7 separate regions of the Homo sapiens genome follow, and all the other regions are linked to region 1. Evidence: fine-mapped expression QTL. A gene starts in region 1. Each other region holds a variant in brackets. All regions are shown on one strand. Distances are from middle to middle.

Region 1 (4,068 bases):
TTCACTCAGTACTTTCTCTTCAATGCTTTTATTTTATGGAAATTTCTCAACATCTTGAGACGTCAGTCAGGCTTATTATCACGAATCTTGAAAAAAAATTAGGCTTAAGAGGAATCAGAGTGTAAATAATCCAATATCCACCTTCCTTTCCAGGAAATAGCCATCTTCTTGGGTATCAGGAAAAGGAAGATAAAGGGGACTCCTAAACTGACTTTCCCAGGGGCTCCCACTCCAGCTGCTCAGGTACCCAGTTAGCACTTTTCTTAATGTTCTGTGCTGACAGAGCTTCAAAGAGTGTGGTAAGTCATATTCATGTGCAAAGGTGAGAGTGAGGGAATGTGTTTAGGCCCATGTATGTTCCTCACAACAAAAGTGCAAAGGGGACAGAGACACAATGGAGAGGAAATGAGGACCCAGCTGTCCCAGGTTCTGTCTGAGGGAAAAGTCCTGCGGTGCTAAGCAAGCCCTTCCACACCTCAGAAGGGATTTCTCAACTGTAAAATGAGTGGCTGAACCAGATTCACAACACTCCTAATGCTGCAACTCCTTCAGTCTTGCTGGCTGTACAGTAGGCAGTCACAGACTATGGTGCCAGCCTTGGGTATGAAGGGCCCAGTTCAATGAAGAAAGACATTGAGACATCACCACATGGCCAGCAGCAGCTTCTGGTGCACAAATATCTGGGGAGGGGAAAGCACTTTCAGTGCCCAAGTGCAAGGAGCTGAAGTAGGCCTGCTGGAAAATGCCAAGGTGGTGCGCTGTCTCACCACTTTCTGCAGGGCCAGCAGAATTCCTCTGTGAGGGAATCTGCCTGGGTGATGGAGGCTCACCAGTGCCTCGTGACCAGAAGGCCATCTGCTTCTTCTTGATCAGGCCAGTGCTTAATGCTCAGATCTCTGAATTCAATGTAAGCTCAAGGTTTCGTGCTGAGCCTCTTGGGATTGCCAACACCTCAGGGGATACATTTTCCAGCTCCTACCCATATACCAGTCTCCCAGCTCAGCATTCTCATTTGGATCAAAAGTAATTTGTGCAAGCCTGATTTGTTAACACATCCCAAATCTGAATCCGTGTGCCTTTTAAAGGTGGCAAGCTGCCATTTATGAGCCATACGCACCTCTCCTTCCTCATCACCACTGCAGTAATCCCAAGAACCACAGGCATGAATAAAAGCCCGAACTTTTCGTTTTTGGTGACAGAAATTTCTCTTACAAGCTCCAGGAGATGATGAGGAAGACAGTGTTCTCTGTTTTCTGATTTTGCTTAATTTTTTAAAAATGAGCCTCTCCCTTGACTTGGTGACACAGCTGTGATCTTATCTGGCCGGCAGGGGGATGCTCCAGGTAGGACAAAGAGTGCTTTGTTTTGTTCTTACAGCAGCCACGCATAACTGGGCTCCAAAAACGCAATACTCCTCAAAGGGAGAGTGAGAGAGAGGGAGAGAGGGAGAAGGGTGTGTGAGAGAGAGAGCGGAGGGAGAGAGAGAGAGGAGGCAGAGTGAGAGGTGTGTAGTGGTGTGTGTGTGTGTGAGAGAGAGAGAGAGAGAGAGAGAGAGAGAGAGAGAGAGAGAGAGAGAGAGAGAGAGAGAGAGAGAGAGAGAGAGACGGAGAGAGAGATTGTCCCTGTAGGAGATCTACAGATAAGAAAACTCCGGGGCGGGCGCGGTGGCTCATGCCTGTAATCCCAGCATTTTGGGAGGCGGAGGCGGGCGAATCACGAGGTCAGGAGATCGAGACCATTGTGGCGAACACAGCGAAACCCCGTCTCTACTAAAAATTCAAAAAAATTAGCCGAGCGTGATACGGCACGCCAGCAGTCCCAGCTACTCGGGAAGTTGAGGCAGGAGAATTGCTTGAACCCGGGAGACAGAGGTTGCAGTGAGTCGAGATCGCGCCTCTGCACTCCAGCCTGGCGACAAAATGAGACTCCGCCTCAAAAGAAAGAAAGAAGGAACGAAAGAAAGAGAGAGAGAGAGAAAAAAAAGAAAAGAAAACTCCATGTGTTCCCTGCCTGTCCTGATTCTCCCCCCAGCTCTGAGCTCTTAGGGTTGCTTCCTTTCGGGAAAAGGTTTGGAAGAACTGGTGTCTAATACCGTCATCCTCTCCCTCTCCCCGCAAGGATCCTAGCGCTGTTTCCGAGGGCTGCAGGGACTGTGAGCCCAGGACCGGCCAGCAGAGCGGGTGCGACTCAGCGAGCCCACCCCGGCCGGTCGCCGCTCCGGGGTCCCGACCTCCAGCGCGGCGACCGTGCCCTTCCTCCCACTCCCGCCTCGCCCCCGGGGCCCCTCCTCACTCAGGCGCGGCGCGGAGCTGCTCGCGGGAACTGGGGTCCCTGGGCGCGTTCCACCGCGCACCAACGCGACCCAAGCGCTCCAAACCCGACTGCTTCTCGCCGACAGCACTGCGAGCCTCCGACCAGCCGCTGTCCCCCTGGCTGCGGGCCGAGCAGCTCTGGCAGGCGGCGGGCGGGTGGGCTGCGCGCGGGCTGTGTCCTGGGTCCGCCTAGCGCGGCCTTGTGGCCCCGACCCTCTCCTCCCCTGGTGATGCTGGAGGAGGTACCGGGGAGGAGCGTGTGTGGCCCCGGCCTCTCACTAGCAGCGGCGGCTCCCGACGCTAGCCTGCTCGAGCGCACCCAGCACCCTCCCCAAGACCATGGCCCGCACCTGGACCCGCGGTTAACTTAGCCCGCCGCGGAGAGAGCCAGGCAATGCCTGGGTGGTGTCGTGCTCACCAGCTCCTTTCCGCAGACCTGATGCCGATCAGATTTACTCCCTGCTGAATTCACCCCCCAGTCAGGCCGGTTTTCCTTGTTTCACCGTGTTCTCTGAATACACTGAATTACTCCGAGCATCTATAGTTGGCAATGCCCTGCGCATTTTCCGCACTCCGATACACTTTACACTGAACACCAATTCGGAAGTTGTGTGGACCGTGCTCCAGATTGGAAGGCCTGCCACTGTGCTGGTGTCATTTCTCCCTGGAAATGACAATGAAGGACAATCAGGAATAGCACTTAGGTCTGAGGAGAAATGGAGCTAGAAGGAGCCGTTTCATAGCTCAGTGTAACACAGAGTTATTTGGGGTTTAACTGAAACGCCTTCCTTCATCTTCCAATGTTTTCTCTTCAATCCACTTTCTAATAAATTAAAAACACACTCATTTAAAACTTCAGCTAGAAACTTAGGGAAAGTAGTTTGAAATTTATGTGTGGTGTTATTAAAATTTTATATTTTTAAATCGTGTTTTGGTTTTTGGTGAGGTGCCAGAACTGGAGATGAAATTTTGCTTATTTTGATTTTGAGTATTCTGCAGTAAGATGGCCTGAATTTTAGCTTGTTTCTCCCACTTATGAGTGGTGTGACCTTGGGGAAGTTCATCATCTCTGCTTCTCGGTCTCCTCATCCATAAAATCAAGAAAATCAAAATCAGTCAGTCAGAGGCAGTTTGTGAGCACGAAATGCAAATACATGTGAAATGCTTGGGACAGAGCTTGGCCTATGGGAAACATTCATTCAATATGTGTTATCTAATATTGATAGCTTAATGAAGCAGTGACTCATTTAAACCTAACAATAGATTTTATTTTTAATTTAAATGGAACTCTATCCGCCTAATGACATTGTCTTGTACTTCCTGGACTAACCCCCTGTAAAACAAATGGCCCACAAATATCAATCTAAAAGGATACATTATGCCCTACCAAAGACATCTCTAACGTCTTCTTTTGACCTTAAGACAAAGGTGAAGACAAAGTTGAAGTTGAAGACCTAATCCCACACTAAAAAGGTGGTAAGCTTTGAGAACAGCTCCTGAAAACAAGTATGCAACATTTTATTCACTTCTCTCATTGCCAGCAACATGTCATCTCCCATTGTCATTAGGTCATATTCTCTGAGCAGCCCCACAGCAGTTGGCATTTGGCAGGTTAGTGCCCTGAGAAGATGCCCAGTGAAGAGTGCCCAGATTTAGCAAATAAAAATGCAGAACATCTGGTGAAATTTGAATGTCAGATAAACAATAAATAGTTTTTTAGTATAAATATGCCCCATGCAATATTTGGGACATATAC
Region 2 (4,068 bases), 300 kb before region 1:
CACAAAGCTACAAGAGGGAGGCAAGAGGATCAGACTCAGAGAAGGAGGTGTGTTATTGGAAGCAGAAGTCAAAGAGATGGGTAGTGAAATATTAAGATTTACAGTGTTGGCTTTGAAGTTGGAGGAAGGGGCTACAAGTCAAGGAATGCAGGCAACCTCTAGAAGCTGGAAAGACAAGGAAATGGATTCTTCTCAAGAGCCTCCAGAAGGAATACATGACTGCTGACACCTAGATTTTAGGACTTCCGACCTCCAGAACTCTAAGATAATACATTTGCATTGCTTTAAAACACTAAGCTTGTGGTAAATTGTTAGGAATTTAATTTAAATTAGTTAAATAGGAAACTAATACTCTAGGAAAACAAACAAGCCTGATTTATAGTTTGTTCATTTCCATGTTGTTAGTACTCCCATGGCCAATTTAATCCATGTTGTTAAATGCTGCACACAATTGGTGGAGCGGGTAAGTGCCCACTTCAGCATATTACTGGGTATAACTACAAAATGGCACCAATAACACAGACTGCCTATACAAACCTGGCACAAGACTTTCATGTGATTTGATATGGTAATTAATTTATCATTGGTACTTTAAAATTTACTCCCTCTGACCAATGTGCTGATTGCCCAGTATGCCTGTGTCACCTTTCTTTAGGTTCCATTCACACTATGTGCCTCACAAAGATAGCTGCTTTTCCTAGGATACTGAATATTACCACAGTGATAAAAGTGCTGAGCCTAACCATCTGGGTAACCAATCCAATGGTAACTCCACAAACAAATTATCTCAAAACAAAACTTCTCCTTGGTCTGAATCCCACAATTTCTGGTGTCCTGAGAGTGGGTGCAGTAATGGTGGCAGCTGAGGGAGAGGTGTCTGTGAAGCAAACTCAGAGACAGGTCTCCTGAGGCCCATGCAGAAACACTCTGGGGAGACCTTACATGACAGTTTTTTTTGGAATGAGGAAGGAATATTTGGAGGGCTGCTTATGGGAGCCTCCATGTCACTAAGCACAGACTGCCCCAAAGCAGCTCATAAAGAGAGGACTTGAAGAACTGCAGCCTCCTCATTTAGAATGGAGGAAAGAAAAGAACTCAGAATGAGATGTAGAGAATGGGATTATAACTTTCTTTTCTTCATGCTTCTTCTAGAGACCCACCCCAGGAGATTCTTATCCTAAGATGAGGTCCTAGAACAGATTATTGAGAAATGCCCAGGCAACTCCTCTCATCTGTAGTTTGAAACCATCAACTGGGCCAGTGATTCTCAAGCAAGGTGATTTTGCCCCCCAGGGGACATCTGGCAATGTCTGGGGCCATTTTGGGTATTCATGATGGGGAATGGCATACTGTCAGCCAGTGGGTAGAGGCCAGGGATACTACTAAACATCCTACATGGCACAGGGCAGCCCGCACACAAAGAATTATCAGTCAGAAACGTCAGTAATTCTGAAGTGGAGAAACCCTGAATGAGATTGTGCCATGAGAAGTTGTGCACCTCCCATATTAGTTATATTTCTGGCAACAAAGTCTCTGACAATTAAATATGTCGTTGCGATGCATTATTTATTCATGATGGCCTTCTATATAGATTGGAATATAAATCTTCTCACTTTGTGCCCAGCAATAATTAGTATTATACAAATGACAACCTGTGCCAAAAGAGATTTTTAAAAGGTTACCATGTATGCTATTGGCTATCATTCTGTCTACAGTGATTATATAGGATTCCCTAAAGAATTATTTTTTGAAATAACTCCTTTAATCATATAAAACATTAAGTGTAATAAAGTCATTCATATGAATTCAAATTCTCTTTATAATGATGTTTCTCTTCCAGAGAACTGTCACTTTTCATGTGGCTATTTTGCTATGATGCTTCCTGCACTATTTTCTTCAGAAAGAAATGTGCTTGGATTAAGTGAAGAGTCTTCTAAGTAAAATTCTCAAAGTACTTAATGAA[T/C]ATATTTTAAAAACCATATTCAGATTTTAAAGGGCTCTGTTCTCATTTACCTTCTCTTTCCCATGCAAATGTTAATTCCTTCTAAAGTAATTGGACCTGCTTAAATTGCCAATCACAATTAACGAATACTCAAAATTTGCCATTAGCAAGAATGAAGCACCCGCAGAGGAATGTATCTTCTATTCAGTAGACTTTTGTTTCCTGAAATTAAAATTTGAAATGCCTTTAATTACTCACAAAGAAGGCTTGGTCAACCAATCCAGTTTTCTTTAGGAACTGATGCAACGACAGAATGGAAAGCAAAACAGGAAGGCAAAACTGACTTGTCTTTTCAGAAAACTTCTAAGGATGCTGTACCAACTACAAGTCCAACACTTATCAGGCTTCACATGGAGGCATATGAATGGAATTGCCAAGTGACTGCATCTAGTCTTTGTAACTATACATCAAACATAAAGGAAAATGGAACTTTCTAGTGAGCACTGGAGAAATGAAGACAAAAGACTGTCAATTTATTGGTACAGTAAGGAAATGTGTAGCTGTTCAAGACTCTGTACGCAGGGGAGATAGAAAATGCACTTTCTTCTGGGCTAGTTCTTGTGAATAAACATATGTGCTCAGATTTCAGAAGGTACTCATCTGGCTTACTGCTCCCCCATCTGGATTTAGAAGTTCTTCTGAGGGTAGTGAGACTAGACAATGGCAGTTGACCAGAGTTGCTCTTTGGTGCGTTATGCAGCAACCACAGGCAAGGGAAGCAAGAGTCCCAACAGGTTTCTTTTTCTTGAGATGGAGTTTTGCTCTTGTTGCCCAGCCTAGAGTGCAGTGGCACAATCTCGGCTCACTGCAACCTCCACCTCCTGGGTTCAAGCAATTCTCCTGCCTCAGCCTCCCGAGTAGCTGGGATTACAGGCGCGTGCCAGCATGCCCGGCTAATTTTTTTGTATTTTTAGTAGAGACGGGGTTTCTCCATGTTGGCCAGGCTGGTTTCGAACTCCTGACCTCAGGTGATCCACCTGCCTTGGCCTCCCAAACTGCTGGGATTATCGGCATGAGCCACCGTGCCGGGCCCAGAGTCCCATGAGTTTTAAATGATGCAAGATGCAGATCAGACTGATGGGCAGAAACTATTATTATTCCTAGCCAATAGTTACAGTTAACTAGGATCAAGACATCATTGACTATATCACTTATATCCTTACAGGAAACCTATGAGGTCAATACTGTTACTTGATGCTGTTTTACAGGTGAGGAAATTGATGTTTAGAAAGGTTAAATAAACTGCCTATGGTCGCACAACTAATAAGCAGTGGAATTTGGTTTTGGACTTAGACTGATAGATGCTAAGGCCCTCTCTCTCTCAATCACTCTGCTATATCATTTCCCTAATTAGAGACAGAATGACCCTTGTGGGGATGAGGCTTGAGTTCTTAGATAATAAAAACAGAACCAACCCCTCCAAAGTACCAGTAACTCAAAAGAAAGTTCAGCCTTCCCAGTAGGCACCAATGCCTTCAGTCACATGTAGACACAGATTATGTGACTGTTGTCTGTCATCTCCAGACACTATAACATTAAACAACTGCCTCATTTTTTTCCAAGCAGATGCTTCCATTTATGCTTCAGTTGGAAAAGCATTTGGTTATACTCAGAAGCCATTAGTACTCTTACGGGCTTGAAAGTGCCACGTAAAATAAATTGATCCTATTTGGGTGTATGCCCTGAACAGGCAATAGGAAAACGAGCCTCCACATTGACCCATAATGTTCCATTTCTGGGCTTGCTCAATCCTTTTTAATGCCCTGCCATCAAGTTCCAATACAGTTTACAGTTTAGATGCTTATTTAGTTTAACATGGTATAATAACATGTGTTTTGGCTGCTTTTAGCAGATCCTGCATAAATTCCAAGAGCATCACTCCCACCCCATATCCTAAAATAAGGGATCTATAGTCACTTAATTTATAAAATACAAGGCATGAAAATATGTCTTGAAATGTTTAAAAATTGGGTAAAGTCACTGATTAAGGTGTTCACAAACCAAATGTACATTGAGTGCAGATAATAAGGAAACTTTTATTAGGGAGGACTTCAAACTTTGTTGTT
Region 3 (4,068 bases), 64 kb before region 1:
CTCCCTCTATCTGTAGCTGTGCTTTCCTTGAGAACAAGAAGGATTCCTTGGTAGCTTTCATCCTGGTACACATTCCTGCCCCAAGCCTAGCATATTCTTGACACAAAAGACATTCACTGTTGACTGATGAATATTTAAACTTTTTCCATTGCCAGATTTAACCACTTATGATACAGTGAAACACTACTTGGTATTGAATACACCACTTGAGGACAATATCATGACTCACGGTTTATCAAGGTAAGGATTGTTTTAGTTGGACTCTGTTTTTTTTTTTTGTATCACTTTTTCTTCCATATTTGACATAAATTCTTTAGGCTCATTTGATTGGGATTGTACTGGCATCACCTTTAGAGAAGAGTACATTTATAAAGAGAAATTTCTTAAAGTTTCTTGCAGTTAGAATGGGGAAGAGACAGACAAAGTTGTAGGATGTTTTGGATTAAACCTCTCAAAATATTTGCATCTTGATGGGGCCATCCCAGGAACAGGCTATGATGATGGACTCTCCAACTCATTTCAACAGATATGTTTGAGTGCCTTTTATGTTAAAGGCACTGGGCAGGGCTCTGCAGTGGGCACCAAAGGGGTAAACTCAATTCCTACCCAGGGAACTTACCAACCAGGAAAACAAGACAAATATAAAAACACTCTACAGGAAATGCTAAAAGGAAGCAACTAGTTACTACAGGGTTCAGGGGAAGGAAAAAACATAACCACTTGGAAGGATCCACAAAGGAGGTAGAAATAGACAAGGGTTTTCAAAGGCTGTGACTCTTCACAGAAAGGGATACGAAGGGCTTTCCAGGAAGGAGCAGTACCTTGATCTCTTTGCAACACAATTTCAAATTATCCATTAGAATGACTTATTTTATAGATGTCTACTGTCCTTGACATTATAGTGATTTCATTTAGCTTCTGATCGTTTCCAAATTCTAAAACTTCCTATGCTATTTAGATGACCCTAAAAGTAGACAACCCTAAAAGTGTAATAGTGTCAAGTCAAATATTTGGAGGTAGGGGTGTGTGTGTGCACGCGCATGCACACACGCATGTGAATTTAACCACTCCAAGAGTATTACTGACTCGGCTTTTGCATGTACTGTTCTATCTTCTTGTAACATTCTTCCTTCAGGTCTTCATATACATGTGTCCTTTGTAACCACTCAATTCTGCTGTCACCCCCGGAGCTTTCCCTGACTGCCTGTCACCCAGTTGCTCCCTGTCACACTTCCCCATGTTTTTTTCATAGCTTTTGTCAGCTTCTGAAATTATTTATTTGACTTCTGCCTTTTCCCAAGTGAAGTATAAGCTCCTCAAGGGCAGGGTCTTACCTGTCTTGTTCACTGCCTAGAAGAATGCTTGACACCAGCAGGTGCACAATGCCTGTTTGTTGACTGACATTCTTTTTGTTGTTTTTCTACCTCTTTAATTAATTTAGCATTAATTTTAAGCAAAAAGAGCATTATGAAGCTTGTAAGAATATATTTAGTATTATATTCTTTCTGAATACCACATTCCCTTTCCTAAGCTACAAACTACTACATACCATCTTTCAATTTCATTTATTTGTATTTATAGTTTATGTTCTGGACTGGTAGCTTCTATTCTGGGAACACCAGCCGATGTCATCAAAAGCAGAATAATGAATCAACCACGAGATAAACAAGGAAGGTAGATAAAAAGTCTTCAGTATCCATGTGCTTGAATATCTGTAATACCTTTGTGTTTTAAAGATGCATCTCTGCATTTTTTATTGATAGAAATGTATTTGTGTGTTTTTTGAGAAAATTGAGCGCATTTTTTTTATGCAATTACCTGCTCTTTGATGAAAAAGTGACATGCATTTGGGGAGATAAGCTAATTAACAATCATATTATTTAGACACAAGATTTTTATTATGACTTTATTGTTTTTAAAGAATTGTTAAAAGCATATTCTGCTGAGAATTTACAGAGCACTTTCTTCAGACGCTTATGACTTGAGTAGGTAACGTGGAGAATCTGATTTGATATGAAATAGTATGTTCTCCCTGGAAGAGAAAAGATAGAATGAATTCTAAATATAAGACCAAGGGTGGCATGAATCAGAAGAGTTAACCTTGAAAATATCTTTAAGATCAAAACAAGTT[T/A]TCTGTATCTGTAGAACCACAAATATTTTTCTAAACTAGCAGAAATTTTATTTATTTATTTATTTTTTTTGAGACAGAGTCTCACTCTGTCTCTCAGGCTGGAGTGCAGTGGCGTGATCTCCCGCTCACTGCAAGCTCCGCCTCCCAGGTTCAAGCCATCCTCCTGCCTCAGCCTTCTGAGTAGCTGGGACTACAGGCGCCTGCCACCATGCCCGACTAATTTTTTTAGTAGAGATGGGGTTTCACCGTGTTAGCCAGGATGACCTCCATCTCCTGACCTCATGATCTGCCTGCCTCGGCCTCCCAAAGTGCTGGGATTACAGGCGTAAGCCACCGCGCCCGGCCAATATTTAATTTTTATAAGATTCCTTAGACAATTTTTATGTACATATATATTTTTTTACACAGAAAAAAATTAAAAGGATCTTGTTTCCTTTTTAGGGGACTTTTGTATAAATCATCGACTGACTGCTTGATTCAGGCTGTTCAAGGTGAAGGATTCATGAGTCTATATAAAGGCTTTTTACCATCTTGGCTGAGAATGGTAAAGTTAGGTTTACTTCCTTTGTTTTTTTTCTTTGTACTTAAATTACTTTTAATTTATAAGCATTTTCCCTTTTCTCTTCTGGTTTGAAGCATGGCCCTGCCCCCCAAATCAAGGTCCTTTCTTTCTTTTTTAAATCTTCTTTTATTTCCTTTCACTTCTCCTCAGAGTTATCTTGCCTTCTGTGGTAGAGTAAGGTAAAATAAGTTACATCCATTGACGAATAAGTTGATAGTCTTGTTATAAAGCCAGTAAATAGATTTTCTGTAATGTAAAATTTTTAGTATTTCATTTAGTCATATTTTAATACAATATTTTAGAATATATATACAGATTTTACACTAGAGACCTCTCCTACAAAAAAAAATACTGTTTCAAAAAAATTTGTTACTTTGATAGCAGATGTTACATTACCCATTAATATTTATTACCACAAAACTCTGCTTAGTAAGAAAATATTATGTCATTTTTATTTGGTTTAGATGTTATTTTTCATTGCAGTGAATTAAGATATAGAATTAGATAGACTTGTTTAAGCAATATAGCAAATAAAATATAGAATTCTAATTCTATAATGTAGAATTAGATAGACTTGTTTAAGTAATATAGCAAATATAATAAAAACAAAGTGCTGACGTTTTTTGTAAGTTAAAACATTTGAAAGAATAGGTGAGTTATAGGTTTAGAAATTCAAGCAATCAAAAATTAACACAATATATTATAATACAATTATATATAATGTAATATTATATGTATCTTTTTAATTGAGTACCTACATCATGCAAAGCCCTATACTGAGGACTCAGCTTTGAATAAGAAACTATAAGTGATAAATGTTATGGGAAGAGTGCATAATGCTATGGAAATATATAGCAAATAAGCACAGCCTAAGCTGGCAATTGAGTAAACCTCCCTGGAGAATGGACTTCTGAATTTAGATTTGCAAAATGAGTATGACTTAGCCAGGAAAGAGGGCAGGAAAAAAAACATTCTCTATAGAGGGACAGTTGGAGTGGACAGAGAGCAGGGTGAGTTCAAGGAAACCTAGCAGACCAAGCTACAGAGACCTCATGGAGAGAGTCAAGGGGTGAGACCACAGAGAGGCAGACACCACACTAGGAAGGACCATATGAGCCAGAAGAGTAATGGGCACCAGTTTGAAGAAATATGCATTTTTAGAAAATTTGTTCTGCCTGTCGTGTGGATTGGGAAAAGGCCAGGAGTAGTGATATATGAGAGATAATGGTGGCTTGGACAAGAGTATGACAGTGGGAATAGAAGATGGATTAAAAACATGTTTAGGAGGTAGAAAGGGAATAGAAACATGACTGATTGGATGGGGATGGGAGAATGGTTGGAGAAGATAAGGAAAAGTCAGACTTCATTCCCAGAT
Region 4 (4,068 bases), 46 kb before region 1:
CTGAGATTTACAGTTAGGCCAGGGTCATTTGAAGCACTGCCTTGTTGTATTTGTATGTAATGACATTTCGAAACGTGGAATGAAAGGAAAAGTACAGGCAGACTATAAGAAGCTTCCACGGATGTGTCTAACTTTGCAAATGAACAAAAATCTAATGTAGACATATCCTGGAAACTTCTAGTTTGCCTGCACTTTTCCATTCCAAATGGAGGTTTGGACATTTAACAGAGGCCTCAAAGGGTTATCCTGTTAAGATTTTAGTATATACAGCAGGGGCTTGAAGGAATGTTGATTCCATTCCTCTTGGCCTCCTTTTATGAATCCAGTTCTGTGCTAGCTCTGTGAGTAAATGAAAATGCCTTCAAAATTGGGATGCCAGAGTTAGACAGCAAAGGAGCAAAGGAACCCGTATCAGCTAAGTGTGGGAAGGGAAATATGTACCAGTTGCTATATACTTTCACACGTTATTTTAACCTCATAACAACTCTTATCAATTCAGATGATGGAACAGGGTTAAAGAATAGAGGCTGAGCACCTGGCTGTCCACGGACACACTGAGCCAGCAGGAGCACCCGTGCCCCGCAGCAGCACCCAGGGCCCTCCTAGAGTTCCGGCCTTAACGCCTAGGAACGTGCCATTGGCTCCTGCGTTTCTCGTTCCCGTCGGGAACGCCACTGGCTAGTACCTTGCCTGGCCCCCAGTGCTCAATCCCTGGTAGTTGGGAGGACGAAAAGGAAATCCCTCTCTGGTCGGTCCTCACCGCAGCCCTGTGTCAGGCCGTCACACGGCGGCCTCCAGAGTCGAAGGCGCTCTGAGGAGATGCAGGTTGTGTCCAAAACCTCCCACCTCGGGGTCTCCTGAACGTCCCAACAAGCTCCTTGGGCCCTTAGGCGTTAGGCCAACCCCAGGCCTCGGCTGGCCCCGCCCACTCTCCGCGGCCGGAAGTGGCGGCGCCGAGTGAGGTAAATGCGTGCCCGGAAGCGCGACCTCGGGCGGTTGGAGGGGCTACCGGGTCTTACCAGTCCGTGGCGGGAGTCCCGGAGGACCCTCGACGGGGGAGTTGCCGAGAAAAGGCCTCGCCGGCATTCTTCCCCTCCACTGGGTCCTTTGAACCTAGTTTGGCTGGGACTCGCCTTCAGGCGGCGCGGAGGATTTCGAGGCCCTGAGGCGCGGCCCTTAATTTCCGGAAGTGGGGGCCGCGCCGCGCCGTCAAGATGTGCTCGACGCCCGGAATGCCGGCGCCGGGGGCCTCGCTGGCCCTGCGGGTGTCCTTCGTGGACGTGCATCCCGATGTGATCCCGGTGCAGCTGTGGGGGCTGGTGGGCGAGCGGCGGGGCGAGTACCTGCGGCTGAGCCGGGAAATCCAGGAAGCGGCGGCCACGCGCGGCCAGTGGGCGCTGGGCAGCGCCTCGGCCTCGCCCGGCGAGCTGTGCCTGGTGCAGGTCGGGCTTTTGTGGCACCGCTGCCGCGTGGTCAGCCGGCAGGCACAGGAGAGCCGTGTCTTCCTGCTGGACGAGGGCCGCACCATCACGGCCGGAGCAGGCTCGCTGGCGCCTGGGCGCAGAGAGTTCTTCAATTTGCCCTCGGAAGTGCTGGGCTGCGTGCTAGCGGGCCTGGTGCCGGCAGGCTGCGGCGCGGGCTCAGGCGAGCCGCCGCAGCACTGGCCCGCCGACGCCGTGGACTTCCTTAGCAACCTTCAGGGCAAGGAGGTGCACGGGTGCGTCCTGGACGTGCTGCTGCTCCATCGCCTGGTCCTCCTGGAGGTGCCTGATGTGTTCCAACAGATGCGGGAGCTGGGCCTGGCTCGGCGGGTGCCCGACAGCCTCTTCCGTTCGCTGCTGGAGCGCTATCTCACAGCGGCCACTGCTAGCGTGGGCTCCGGGGTCCCGGTTCTCTCGCGAGTCCCGCTCAAGCAAAAGCAGCCTGGTCTGGATTACTTCTATCCCCAGCTGCAGCTGGGCGTGACGGAGGCCGTGGTCATAACCCAAGTGTGCCATCCCCACCGCATTCACTGCCAGCTCCGCAGCGTCTCGCAGGAGATCCACCGCCTCTCCGAGAGCATGGCCCAGGTATACCGGGGTTCCACGGGGACAGGGGATGAGAACTCTACCAGTGCCACCTGGGAGGAGAGGGAGGAGAGCCCAGATAAGCCGGGCTCTCCGTGTGCATCCTGTGGCCTGGATGGACATTGGTACAGAGCACTGTTGCTTGAGACTTTTCGGCCCCAGCGCTGTGCCCAGGTGCTTCATGTGGACTATGGAAGGAAGGAGTTAGTGAGTTGCAGCAGCCTTCGGTACTTGCTGCCTGAATATTTTCGAATGCCGGTGGTGACCTACCCTTGTGCTTTGTATGGACTCTGGGACGGTGGGAGAGGCTGGTCTCGGTCACAGGTCGGTGACCTGAAG[A/G]CACTGATACTAGGCAAGGCAGTGAATGCAAAGATTGAATTTTATTGCTCCTTTGAGCATGTGTATTATGTCAGCCTGTATGGAGAAGATGGGATTAATCTGAACCGTGTGTTTGGAGTACAGTCGTGTTGCTTGGCTGACCGAGTCCTTCAGAGCCAGGCAACAGAGGAGGAGGAACCAGAAACATCTCAGTCTCAGTCTCCTGCTGAAGAAGTAGATGAAGAGATTTCACTCCCAGCCTTAAGATCTATCAGGTTAAAGATGAATGCCTTCTACGATGCGCAGGTAGAGTTTGTTAAAAATCCTTCTGAGTTTTGGATTAGGTTGAGGAAACACAATGTCACCTTCAGTAAGCTGATGAGGAGAATGTGTGGTTTCTATTCCTCTGCCAGTAAGCTGGATGGTGTAGTTTTGAAACCTGAACCTGATGACCTTTGCTGTGTCAAGTGGAAAGAAAATGGTTATTATAGGGCCATAGTCACCAAATTGGATGACAAGAGTGTGGATGTATTCTTAGTTGACCGAGGCAATTCGGAAAATGTGGACTGGTATGACGTAAGGATGCTGCTTCCTCAGTTTAGGCAGCTACCAATATTGGCTGTGAAGTGCACCCTGGCTGATATTTGGCCTTTGGGAAAAACTTGGAGCCAGGAGGCAGTTTCCTTTTTTAAAAAGACTGTGCTCCACAAAGAATTAGTCATCCATATTCTTGATAAACAGGATCATCAATATGTTATTGAGATTCTTGACGAATCAAGAACAGGGGAAGAAAACATTAGTAAGGTAATTGCCCAAGCTGGATATGCCAAGTATCAGGAATTTGAAACAAAGGAAAATATCCTGGTAAATGCCCACTCCCCAGGGCATGTTTCAAACCACTTTACTACGGAGAGTAACAAAATACCTTTTGCCAAGACTGGAGAAGGAGAGCAGAAAGCCAAGAGAGAGAATAAAACCACATCTGTTTCAAAAGCTTTGAGTGACACAACAGTTGTAACAAATGGTTCAACTGAACTAGTTGTGCAGGAAAAAGTGAAAAGAGCATCTGTTTATTTTCCTCTTATGCAGAATTGCTTGGAAATTAAGCCAGGCTCCTCTAGTAAAGGAGAGCTGGAAGTTGGAAGTACAGTAGAAGTCAGAGTGTCTTATGTTGAAAACCCTGGCTATTTCTGGTGTCAGCTGACCAGGAACATACAAGGACTTAAAACTCTAATGTCTGATATTCAGTACTATTGCAAAAATACAGCTGCTCCTCACCAGAGAAACACCCTTGCTTGTTTGGCTAAGCGAACAGTAAACAGACAGTGGTCCAGAGCACTTATTAGTGGGATACAGTCTGTGGAGCATGTCAATGTAACATTTGTAGATTATGGAGACAGAGAAATGGTATCTGTGAAGAATATTTATTCAATTAGTGAAGAATTTCTGAAGGTTAAGGCACAGGCTTTTAGGTGCAGTCTTTATAATTTAATTCAACCAGTTGGCCAGAATCCCTTTGTTTGGGATGTAAAGGCAATACAAGCTTTCAATGAATTTATAGATAATGCATGGCAAAAAAATCTAGAATTAAAATGTACAATATTTGCTCTGGCTTCAATTAATGAAGAACTGTTTAACATTGTGGATTTGCTAACCCCCTTTCAGAGTGCATGCCATTTCTTGG
Region 5 (4,068 bases), 110 kb after region 1:
TTTATAACAACCCATGGAGCCTGTACCATTATTATCTCCTTTCAAGTAGTGTAAATTGAGGCAGAAAGAGTTATTTTACCAAAAGTCAAACTAATAAGTGGTGGACCTCCAATTGAAAAGCACACAGTTTGGCTCTAGAACCAATGCTCTTAACCACCGTACCACATTTACCAAACTGGCTGTCAATCAATGCTGAAGAACAGCCCAATACACCTGTCCATGCAAAATGAAGCAAAGAGTGCAAAGCATTCAAGTAGCAAATCAGCTGCTGTTTCAGTCTGCATATCATAAGGAAAATCATGACTTAGCTAAATGTATTAGGACAAATGTCCCAATTCTCCACTTGATATGTTTAAACATAGCCTCAGAATCACTCTTCATTTCTGGGAAGCCATATTTTCTTCCTACATGTCTAAATGCCATCCAACACTCTGAGAATTCTTGATAGATCCGAGATGAAAATAAAAACAACAACACTGGTGATTGAGACCTTACAAGAAGCTCACTTGAATGAAGACTCAAGCTGGGGGGTTGAGATAGCTAAGTTGAGAACTACTTTCAATAAAGCAGCACAGCAGGAATTCTTTGATGTTTCATCAGAGACTTAAAAAGGAAGCAGGCACACTCTGAAGTTTGCCCAGAACATTGGTCTTTATGTCCTGGGCTGCCCCAAGGTAGAATTATAAAGTGAGATGAAGCTGGGAGATGCCTTAACTCCTCCACCCTCTCTGTCACCATTGTTCTCCCCTCTCATTTTGTGCATTTGAAACTTTTCCTGCTATGGAAGCCTACTTTTAAGCAAGTAACTGGCATCAGGTTGCATAGAGAAGCAACATAAGGAGGTGGATACATGCCCATGTTCTAGGTCAGACACTGCACTTAGATCCTGGTTCTACTGGTCCTCAGCTGTGTGACTGTGGACAAGTTATTTACCTCTCTGTGCTTAGTTTTTTCGTCTAAAAATGCAAAGAAAAAGAATATTTAGTTACTTTTGGTTTGCTGTAGAGTTTAAATGAAATTATACACATAAAAATCTTAGAACAGGACCAGGTACACAGCAAGGGCTCAAAAACTGTTGGTTAACATAGTTATATAGTTACCAGCCATTTTCATTCGAGGGTAAATTTAAGTTACTGTGTTTCACCCAGAAGTATATTTGCATACCTTTTCTCTCCTTGAGATTAACCTGAGATTAACCTTCTTAACCTTATCTGTCCTTGAGATTTCTGTTTTTGTAAAAGGAATGTCCAACATGAGGGAGAAGGTGTGAGAGCTATTCCGAGGGGATAGGAGCAACAGGCCAAGGTGCGTGACATCCCCCCAAACTGGGAAGCTGTCTGCCTTATTACTTAAGGCCATTTCAGCTTGTCCCTCTACTCCAAGGACCTGGGTCTTCTCGGATCACACGTTAGCAATGTGTGCTCAGAGGCTAGGGTAGGAACTTGTCATCCAGCCTCAGCTGCTGGCTGGTCTGTCAGATTGCCCTGGGATAGCTGCAGATTCATCTGCAGATTCATCATGGATTGAAAATGAAAATCCAGGCCAGCAGTGGCTTTGAATGGATGAATTAGGAAAGGGAATAGGGCCACCTATGTTAATCCTTTTGCAGCTGCCTTGATAGAAAAAGTATTAGGTTCCCATGAAACATGGAAGGCACCCATTTTTCTTCCTCAAACGACCTTCCAGCAACCTATCTGGAATGGGTGAACCAGATCATTTCTGGGGCTTTCAGTTTTGTTGTTAGTGCCATAAATGAGATTCAGTCAGTGAGGGGGGACAGAGAAAGGAAGGAGCTATCCCAGCGAGTATGCCTCAGAAATGTATGCCTGCCTGTGGATGTGCAATGCACACTTGTAAACCGAACAGTCTCTGAGACAGGTCTCAATCAACTTAGAAGTTTATTTTGCCAAGGTTAAGAACACGACTGGAAGAAAGGAACACAGAATCACAGAGACAGTCTGTGGTCCGTTTTTCTGCAAAGATATTTTGAGGGCTTCAGTATTTAAAGGGGAAAAGTGGAGGCGAAGAGGGAGGGTATGGTCACAATGCATAATCCATGCATTGCAGGAGAA[A/C]AGGAGCAGGTAGGGGAATAGTCAGTGATGTATTCATCTCAGTAAATCGGCACTTTACATAAAAGGTGAACCTAGCGTAGCTATCTGTGGAGATATCTGGCCTTTCATCTGTTAGCTATTCGCTTAGCAACAGAAGGAAAAGGCTGTTTCTTGCATGACTTAGCTTCCATCTTAATTTTTTCCTTTTTGCATAGTGAATTGGGGGCCTGAAATTTCCTTTGCCTTTCACACACTGAAACTACATGACTGGGATTTCCCTCCCTCCACAGTCCTACGTTGCTTTCTGACTACCCTTTCCCCTGCAAGGATCATAATATAAAAGTGTTAGGAGGCGGGAGTGAAAGAGATTTTTTTCATTCCTGGTTTCTGTTATCCACTATGCCTTGACCTTCGCTCTGTCCATATGATCAAATTACTTCCTGAACCTAGACCGTTGGGCGCGTCATCCGCGGGACTGACTGCCTCCCGCCGGCTTCCTGAGGCCGGACCGCAGCGGGGACGCCTCCTCTCAGGCCCAGCAGGGGGCGCGCGAGCCTCAGGAGACGCCAGCGGTGGTTGCGGAGCTGCGGTGCTGGAGGCCAGCTGTCACTCCAACCCAGCTGGAGATTCCTGTCGGGAATGCTTGGCATAGGACAACTGTGAGGGAGCCCCTGGGGCATGGGAAAACCCTCACAGTTCCAGAAAAAAACAGAAAACGGGTGCACAGTTTTTCTCGGTTAATCAAAGTCAAATTCCTCTTCCCACAACTGCTGGGGTGCCGGCTGGCTGGCAGGATGGAAGACCCAGGATGGTAAAAATCAAAATCCGAAAAAGGCAGGGCCCAAAGTCATTCCTAGGTTTTGCGGTTTAATGTCATCGGAAGTGGGCCGTGACAGCAATCTGCCCACCACTTGCCCAGTCAGGTCCTCTTGCCTTTCATGCTGAGAATAAAGCCATTTTTTTCCCCCCAGGCTTCTGGGTTTGTTGTGTTTGGGCTTCAATAGTCACCGGCATCCTTCACTTGGCTCTGCATGAGAGAATAAAAACCCTGCAGTGGGAACAGGCTCATGTATCTCCTAACCATGCCCCATGTGTGCAGAGGGACCTGTCATGGACACTGGTGGCCTTTCAACTTCATTTCAAAGTTTACAGGTAAAAGGGGAAAAATGGGTGTGTATAAAATCATTTAAGAATAGACAGGACGGCTGTGTCTGAATCGTAGGACACCACGACCAAGGCCCCCACGCCCACCGCTAACACATAGAGATGATATTTGGAGATAAGAACTGGTCTGGCACAGAGCGGGCTTCGGGAGTTGGCCCATCTCCCCTCTTTTCTTCTTCTGTCCACTCCACATTCACTAACAGTGGGAAACTTGGTTTCCGTCTAGAATGTGCTAGAGGATAAATAGAGCCCTCACATCCTTTATATTCATCTATAGGACATGAGGGCTCTATTTTCAGCTGTCAATGAAAATTTTGAGTCATCCTCACACAAATGTTGGAACAGGCATCTGTTTATTTGCTAGACATTTGGTTCTGAAAACTTTACTTCAAGGACCCTTGTTTAAACCTTCTATAACATGCTGGATCTTTGCACACGGCTTGGGAGTGTGGATGAGGTGAGGGAAACCATCAGCCCTGACAGCCAGTTGAGTTCAGCGGCGAGCTGCCGGCCTCCCCCATGCCTGGAAGATAGAAAGGATCGTTCGCTGTTTGGAGAGTGGAGGGGCATTCTGGGTGACATGCAGAAGCCTGAGCAGCAGCAGCACCACATTGCAAGAAGGCAGACAATTACTACAAAGACAGCTCACGGGATCTCATTAGATATTTCCTTGTTATGGAATGGAAAGGAAGCATAGCTGCGTGCTGGCATACATGATGTGATTTTAAATCCCAAGTCATAATTTTAGAAACCAACAGAACCTAATATTAAAGCTAAACTACCGTCCTCTTGAAATGATGAGACACCATTCCCGTTGCCCTTTTAAAAACACAATCAAAAGGTATGTTCCCTG
Region 6 (4,068 bases), 54 kb after region 1:
AAAACCAAGGTGTAGCTATTAAAAGCTTTCTTCCTTTCCTGGTATGTAAAGAAATGTAACACTTCTACTCACAGGTCATCGGTGACTGACACTCTGGCTTGCATGTTTGTGCAAAGCTGTCCTTATTAGTGTAATATGTGACATTGTTTTAGAAAGTGGCTGCCATTGCAGTCTTCACACTCCCATCATTGGCAATTAGAAGGTAAATTTATATTTTAAAATTTGATTCAGAATATGAGTATAATCTCACCTGCTACCAATTCAGGAAGCCTCCTTTGCCAGTCTGTCAACTTTGATCGATTATTCTGAGAATTTCCAAAAATGCCCCCAATAGGCCTCCTATCACCTTCCCCTTGTTACTTCAACTGACATTCCTGTTAAAGTGGCAGATAATGCAATTGGCCCTAAACAGAGCTGTTGTCCACTTGCATAAAAGAATCAGCTGCACCAAAAACAATTTTGCCATTTTCAAAGGGAAATGGGATTACAGATACTATTTATTTTCTTAAATGGCTAAACCTCCTGTTGTCTGGATCAAGTTCCATGTGTAACTTACTATCATCTTGCTTCCATTAAAAGACCTCAAAACTGAATGACTTTTCTAGGACAAACAAAAAATCCCCAAACCAAGCCCTACCCATTCTTTCTCCAATACCACCCCTATCTGAAGAATTGTATCTGTCTGTGGCTGCCTCACACCCAGCCTGCAGCCATGGCACTATTTTCTATGACTAACATTGTCTCCCTTCTTAAAATACTTTAGGATCCAAGAATCCTCAGATGCCCTGGAAGGTCTTCACAGCTAACGATCAAGTGTCCCTTTTGCAATTTAAGCCTGTTTCCTTGTACCCTTATTTCAGAAGCAGTAGAAAAACTTCTTCATAGGAATCACATTTCCTTTCAGAGAAAAGTCCAGCTCAATTGTGTCTTCCCTTCACTCAACAATTTCCATGTGTTAAGTATTCTCTCCCAGATGTCACAGTCCAACTAGGCCGCGTGAGCAGCGATAATCCCTCTAATTAGCAGAGGTTGGAGACTTTTCCTGAAATCAGGGGACAATCTTGTAGCTCATAGCTGAGTTGGCTTCAGTTTAAATACTTTATGAGGGTTCGATAAGTAGAAAGAGAATTGGGAAAACATAAAGTAAGCTGCTTGTCTGATTCTTCCTTGTGTCATAAGAGAAAGATAACAATGTGTTCTTTGGGTTCTATAAAAGAGAAAAGGCTGGAACCAAATCCATTGAATGCCCACCTGGCCCTAAAGAGTGGCTTATTAGGGTCCTCAGTGCCCAGCTGAGTAAGAAGTACCCCTTGCCTCACCAATTGGGATTGGTGTCTGTACACACTCCAAAACACAGTTGCCTGCCCAGGTCAGCAGGTCTCACATTTTCCATATAGAAATAACCCCCAAGCTTGTTAAAAATGCAGGTCCTCAAACCACACTGCAGAGGGGCTGTTTCCTGGAGGCCTTCTGAAATGGACTTCTGTGTTGATGATCTCTCGAATTCTTAACATCTGATGTATTCCCTATTAGGAAACTGAAGGTTCTATGATCTTTTGATTTTCTTATACAAAGGGAATCAGAGGAAAGCTATTCGATAACCACAGTGAGAGTGGAAGCATCTGACTGATGCAAATTCCACAGTGTCCTGTTCATCAAAGTGTGTTCCACAGACTACCTGCATCAGAGTCACAAGGGTGCTTATTAAAAATGCAGATCTCTGGAACTCACCATTTGACGTGAGTCAGGATTTCCAAATTCCAAGCCAAGAAATTTGTACCTCAACAAACCATCCAGAGGATTTTGAAGGAATCTATAGCTTGGGAACTGTTTCCCTCAGGGTTAATTCTTCTTAGTAAACTGTTAGAGATGGAACCCTGTGAAACCAGGGGTCTGCATGCTACA[G/A]CATAATGGTGGAGGCCTCACTCCTGGGCTGTCAAAGGCCAGACATAGGTGTAAAGAACTGCCTCTCAGGTGGAATTTAGGAGCATTGTTCAGGATCTGCATGACCTTGAGAAGGTTCCTTAATTTTTCTTCATCTCAGTTTCTTAATATATAAAATGGAGATAATAATAGTTGCTTCTTCGTAGGATTGTTGTGAGGATTGAATGGATAATTACCCTTAGATACTTGGAATACTGCCTGGCCCACAGTAAGTACTATGTACATGTTGGTTGCTGCTACTGCTTCTGTTATAATTATTATCACCGTCTCAATTTCCACCACCTTGAGGGTTATTCTCTAAAACCCAGGGGTCAGCAAACTATGACCCTTTGCTTTGTTTTTGTGAATAAAGTTTTATTGGAACACAGCCATGTTCACACCTTTACATTATTGTCTACAGCTACTTTATGCTACATACAACAGGAGAGTTACATAGCTACAACAGGGCTCATATGGCCCACAATGCTTGACATATATCTCTTTGCCCTTTACAGACAGTTTGCCGACTCTTGCTCTATACACCTTTGGGCCCCTGTTAATATGTTGATTGCCCTGGGAGGAACAAGGACTGTTGTGTTTCAGGTTAGCTGACAGCTGGTTGAAGGCAGAACTCTGTGAGTGAAGCAGAAGGAATCAGCATCTTGCAATAGAGTAGAAAGAGGGCAGAGAACATCCTTGAGAAGGGTTTGGGGTGAGAGGACTTTGCAAGTCTCTTAGCCCAACTCCTTGCCTGAGCTTTTATGAAGCTGGAGAGTGTGTGGAAATAGCTGGGGGCGGGTTTTTCCATTTTCTACCTGTCAATGGCTTTCTTCCTCTAAGCTTCAGACCACTTTCTCAACTGGTCAGTTTATGAAATGCCCTTCCTGAGATCAAAGCAAGTCACCCCATCCGATACCTTCAGAGAAATTTCTATTTACTTTTTTCAGTTAAAATGAGAACTAATTACCTACTATGTTTCCAAACACTGGGGCAAATACAGGAAATAAAGCATGGACCTTGACCACAGAGTGCATAATCTTCTTTAAACTGAAAAGCCATAAACCCTTCAAATGAAGGACTTAAGGCCCCAGCCTTACTCATTTGATACCCTGACACAATGAAGAAGTGACTAGGATTGCAAATAGCTGGTAACTAATTAACATCTGCCATTAAGATTGTGACAATAAAATAATTGGGGGCAAGTTGTGTCTGCTGAAGACCTATGTTCTCATCACTGGAGATTCTACTGAGCAAGGAGTGGGCTGAGCTGTGTTTTTAGTGCCCATGTTTTGCTAGGAGGCAGTTGCTAACTAGCAGGTAGAAGGAGCAGTTTATTGAGTGCTTCCTATGTTTCTAGTAGCTGTGGTTTACATATGTTATCTCATTGAATCTTTACATTGGCCCCATGAAGTAGGCACCACTATCCATTCTACACATAAAAAGCAGGTACTAAAATTACTGTAGCTAGTCAATGGTAGAGGTGGAGTTCCTGCTTATCTGATTCCAAAGCCATTGTTGTAGTATATCATTCAGATAAGTTTAAGAAGGCAGGGAAAGATAAAAACACATCTGGCTGGAAGCAAGAGAAGGTGGAGAGAATTAAACAGCCTCACTATTCCCTGTTTGAAATCCTGATACCTGAGATTTAGTAGAGAGGTGTACCAAAGCAACAGCACTGCCTTTTTCTTTAGAAAATAAAATAACAAACTCCTACTTCCTGGTTTCCAAGATTAACAAATATTCAGTTTTACCAAATATTCAGTTTTACCATAATTGCTTCAGAATTTGAGAAAAATTAAACAACACATTTAAGAAATAAAAGTCTCATATGTTTTCCACACTGATACTTAAAGCCAATTATTCTTACGATGTTGGCCAGTTTTAAAATTTGATTATTGCCCAATTTTTAAATGGTCTAGATTGTAGTTGCTCACTTAAGTCATTGCGGCTGTTGGGCAAATTTGGCTTTTTGTTTTGTTTTGTTTCGTTTAAAAAATAATATTAGTGGTTTGTAATGGTTAGAGACGGTGGAAGATGGCCTTTTATCACCTCACCATCAGTGGCTTAGGTAAAACAAAAATCAGCCATAGAACGCTTCTGCCCATCAGAAGCAGGCCCCCAGTTGACATGCCTCCTATTTTACAG
Region 7 (4,068 bases), 36 kb after region 1:
TCTATCTTGATAATTGTAGTGATTACATGACTGGGTTACATGACTGTATGGTACACTAAAAGTATAAGTTTTAGTACATGCAAAGTATACGGTAAACATTTTTTAATATGGGGGAAAAATTAATGATTATTTAATTCATGTAGGAAGACAAAGCCCCTGTCAAAACACCAGGTCCATGAGAGTTGATGATGGAAAAGGGAATGTATTCCATAAATTCTTGGTGAATAAATTATTGGAAATATTGGGCTAGTTCAGTGGATTCCCTATTGGCTTTGTATCAGAATAACCTCTGGAGTTTATAAAAAATACAAATTTATGGATTTCTCCTCAGAGATTCTAATTCAATAAGTCAGGTCCCAGGAATTTCTATTTTTTCAATATTCACTAAATTAATGTGATGTCCATCCAGGGTTAGAATCCTTGAGCTGTATAATTGTTAAAATCCTTTCTAAACTAATCATTCTTATAACTGCATAGAATTTAGGATGTATGTAAACTTCTTTGGAGGAAAAATATTTACGTTTACTAGCCCTATGTGACATTTAACATTTCCTTCAACTATGAATGGTGGGTAACAAAACTCATACGTATTATTAGTTCATGTGGCTTCGTTGCACACAGATATCTCAGATATTTTCATGTTATATTAATATTATATTTCAAATTAAGAAATATTTTGATAATATCTCAGATATCTTAAAATATTTATACTCATTAACTGGAAATTACAGTAACTATTAGAATTATCTCTAAATCTAGTTATGTAATATATTAATAATGACATAAATATGCCACAGTTATTTTAATATTTTAATAATTGCATTATGATAATATCAGTATTCTTTGTAATCTCTTATATTACATTTTATATAAAAAGGCTTTTCCTAGAAAGGGGTTTATAGACTTTACCAGGCAGCCAAAGTGGCTCATGGGACAAAATAATTAAACACTTTCATGGTAAGTTTCCCTGATTTAAAGTGTTAGGGCTCCCGTTGTCATTGCCCATTTTTGTAATGGAAATGTGTTTTCTTTTTGCCAATCTGTACATTACCTTTGTCCACTAAGAATATTAAGAGAAACCATTTTTCCCAATCTGTGATTTATTTTTTAATAAAAAAGTGGGCCGGGCATGGTGGCTCACTCCTGTAATCACAGTAATTTGGGAGGCTGTGGTGGGTGGATTACCTGAGGTTAGGAGTTTGAGACCAGCCTGACTAACATGGTGAAACCCTGTCTCTACTAAAAATAATAATAATAAAAAAATTATCCACGTGTGGTGGCACAAACCTGTAATCCCAGCTACTTGGGAGGCTGAGGCAGGAGAATCGCTTAAAACTGGGAGGCGGAGGTTGCGGTGAGCTGAGATCGTGCCATTGCACTCCAGCCTGGGGGACAGAGCGAGACTCTGTCTCAAAATAAATAAATAAATAAATAATAATTTTAAAAAGGGGAGAAAAATCATTAAAAAAATAAAGTATTATGGCTCCTGTAACTGCAGACACACCCATATTTAAATGAAAGCAGAGGGGGAAAGCTACTTTAAAATAAAGGTGTGATGGGGTTCTGGATCACCTAAGGCATTTCTGGTTACCAACATCCCTTTACTCAATCAAGCTGGCACGGAAATATATTTAGGTCAGGCGCGGTGGCTCACGCCTATAATCCTAGCACTTTGGGAGGCCTGGACAAAAAAAGAGCGAAGCTCAGTCTCAAAAAAAAAAAAAAAAAAAAAAAAAAAAAAAAAAAAAAAAAAC[G/A]GAAATGTATTTACTTGTGCAAGCCCAGCTGACAGGTTGAGGATGATAAGGCTTGGGTGTTGAAAGACACATTGAGCAATATGAGCATTCCCATATCACTCAAGTGCCTATACTTACGCTCATTCACGCTGATGGAACTTCCTCTTCTCCCACCATTTCAAAACATGGCACGCAAAATGAAAGGAAGAAAGACAAAAGAAGCAGCTAAGGTTGACAACGGAGTTGAAAGGCGCTGGTTTGTGAAAGCAAACAGATATGATGGAATACACATAAATACACACATATACACACACACACAAAACCAGATGGTAAAGTCAACCTTTATGGGAGGGGGACCACATAATTTACTCATTCTCTTCTAGGACACTATACATGAAGTTCTGCTCATAGCAGAGTGAATAAAACCTGAGTCGTTTTTATTTTGTTTCATTTTTCCTCAAAGATTTTAATGTTCTAGGGAAAAAAAAACCCCTCAGTGGAAGTAAAAGATGACTGACTAACGAAGGCATAATGCCTATGTTTTTGAAAAGTGCTGTGTCAGAGGGCAACAGAACATGGGGGTAAGAGCAGGGGCTTTTGCCTGAGACAGGTAGGTTCCAGCACTTCCCAGCTCAGTGGCCTTGAGAAAGTTGCTGACCTTTGTAAGCCTCAGTTTCTTCCTCTATAAGGCCCATTCATGCTGGCTTCATTGATACTTGTGAAGATTAAGCAATATGTGGCCAGAGAGAAAGAATTGAGAAAGCTTAATGAGAGACACCTTTCTTAGAACTCATCAAGACTAAAGGTTCCTCGAAACATAAGATTGACGGAGGGATAGTGAGATGGCAGGTGACTAGTTATGTGTGAAAGCAAGCAGTAAGAGCTAGTAGAAGGTAGGTATTAGGATGGTACTATAAAATTTTTAAAAATTTTTTCTGTGTATTTGAAAGTTTTCTAAATGTAATGATAGGGGGAAAATCTAGAGGCTTTTCTGTAGTAGCCAGTGGCCTTTGGAAATGTCTGTGGTGCCCACAAGCCCAAGAAATTAGAAACAATTCCCTCACATTCTGCTGTGTAGTCAGAGTTCAGGATCTATTTTAGGGTAGTCAGTTCAAGCAATTCTTTCTAAGCAGTTTGAACTTGAGGAGTTTGGTTAGTCTGCCATATCTTCAGTTTCCTCATTTGTAATTGGTGATAGGCATGCCTGCCTCTTAGGATTACACATGATGTACCTGGCACTCATGATTATAGTTATGACTCTTATTATCGGAGTCAAGAGGACCTTAAAGTTCATCTAACCAAAAACCCTTATTTTACAGATGGGCAATCAGATGCTCAGAGAAGAAAAGTGATTTCCCCAAGCTCACATAGCGGATTTGTTGTAGAATTAGTATTTGAATTTGGGTTTTCTGTGTTCTAGTCCAGTCATCTGTCCACCGTCCCACACTCCCTCCAGAGGATTGTTCCCCCCATCTTATAAAATCACATGTAACAACTATAGGGCAATCAGGCATCACCAATAATTCCTATGCAAAAGAGCAAATTTCACTAAGAGACAGCTCAGGAATTCTCTCCCCTGCTGGCTTTGTCACTCTGTTCTCAACATTTGGGTAGTCCTAGATTCCATCAGACCAAAGGACTTTGGGGCAGAAGCCGTGAGCTCTCCAGGAATCTTGGACTTGAGGGGTACTAGAATTTTTCTCTTTGGGCACTCTGGCATGGCTTGTGGGAACATTATAAGTACAGCAGCAGTCTCTTAGCAAACCATTTCTTGTCACATGTCATTTGACAAAACCAAGGCAAAGAAGAAGCTCCCTTCCAGGATATAACTGGAGTCCCAAGGCCAGCCTGTGGCCACACATGTTCCTCTTATTGGGCCGGGGAACTCTAAATTCTTGCCACATTTGCAGAAGAGAAATCAGAGACCTTCCACCCACTAGGAACCATGTGACTGTTTAGCAACTTTGCAGCAGGGGTTCAGAAATTAGAGAGAACAGCTTCTGCTCTCTAAGTTGGCTTCCTATTTCTCGCCTGGTCACACTCAAGACACTTCTCTGGCCTTATCTAACACCCATGCACATTGTGCTAGTCTCCAAGTAAATTTAGCTACAAAGATTTTTTTTTTAATGTTCAGTACTGGAATTCCCTCAGCCATGTGACTCTGAGCCTCCTTATCAGGTTCCATGAAACTTGATGACTGCAGATCCTGAAGAATCTAAGGTAGCAAAATACTTTCCACTGAGAAGTCAAGGTTGTGTGTGAAACAGTGAAACATGAGGTCTGGCCCCTATTGCTATTATAAAAATGTTAAGCTATGTAAGCTTTTGGGATGGCT

The links. PIP is the estimated chance that this variant, and not a neighbour inherited with it, causes the effect.
Region 2: its variant is fine-mapped to the expression of PLA2G7 in whole blood (TOPMed, PIP 0.96).
Region 3: its variant is fine-mapped to the expression of PLA2G7 in whole blood (INTERVAL, PIP 0.92).
Region 4: its variant is fine-mapped to the expression of PLA2G7 in whole blood (TOPMed, PIP 0.97).
Region 5: its variant is fine-mapped to the expression of PLA2G7 in whole blood (TOPMed, PIP 0.98).
Region 6: its variant is fine-mapped to the expression of PLA2G7 in whole blood (INTERVAL, PIP above 0.99).
Region 7: its variant is fine-mapped to the expression of PLA2G7 in whole blood (INTERVAL, PIP above 0.99). The same link has a PIP of 0.9 or more in monocytes.

What each region holds. Positions count from the first base shown.
Region 1 is chr6:46,732,888-46,736,955 of GRCh38, forward strand. It overlaps PLA2G7 (phospholipase A2 group VII), which reads right to left and starts at 2,488. Exons shown (of 12, transcript NM_005084.4): 1 at 2,293-2,488.
Region 2 is chr6:46,433,481-46,437,548 of GRCh38, forward strand. The region is part of intron 2 of RCAN2 (regulator of calcineurin 2); the gene reads right to left. Among named protein-coding and RNA genes, the nearest start is that of RCAN2, 56 kb to the right of the region's middle. The variant T/C (reference allele first, on the strand shown) is at 1,964.
Region 3 is chr6:46,668,554-46,672,621 of GRCh38, forward strand. It overlaps SLC25A27 (solute carrier family 25 member 27), which reads left to right. Exons shown (of 9, transcript NM_004277.5): 6 at 156-240; 7 at 1,582-1,674; 8 at 2,573-2,675. It overlaps TDRD6-AS1 (TDRD6 and SLC25A27 antisense RNA 1), which reads right to left. Exons shown (of 2, transcript NR_134643.1): 2 at 1,891-2,032. Among named protein-coding and RNA genes, the nearest start is that of TDRD6, 17 kb to the right of the region's middle. The variant T/A (reference allele first, on the strand shown) is at 2,132.
Region 4 is chr6:46,686,915-46,690,982 of GRCh38, forward strand. TDRD6 (tudor domain containing 6) reads left to right here and starts at 971. Exons shown (of 4, transcript NM_001010870.3): 1 at 971-4,068. The coding sequence starts at 1,215. It overlaps TDRD6-AS1 (TDRD6 and SLC25A27 antisense RNA 1), which reads right to left and starts at 1,251. Exons shown (of 2, transcript NR_134643.1): 1 at 1,020-1,251. The variant A/G (reference allele first, on the strand shown) is at 2,406.
Region 5 is chr6:46,846,530-46,850,597 of GRCh38, forward strand. No RefSeq gene overlaps it. Among named protein-coding and RNA genes, the nearest start is that of ADGRF5-AS1, 55 kb to the right of the region's middle. RefSeq lists an enhancer at 312-876. The variant A/C (reference allele first, on the strand shown) is at 2,073.
Region 6 is chr6:46,787,330-46,791,397 of GRCh38, forward strand. No RefSeq gene overlaps it. Among named protein-coding and RNA genes, the nearest start is that of MEP1A, 4.0 kb to the right of the region's middle. The variant G/A (reference allele first, on the strand shown) is at 1,906.
Region 7 is chr6:46,769,320-46,773,387 of GRCh38, forward strand. No RefSeq gene overlaps it. Among named protein-coding and RNA genes, the nearest start is that of MEP1A, 22 kb to the right of the region's middle. The variant G/A (reference allele first, on the strand shown) is at 1,755.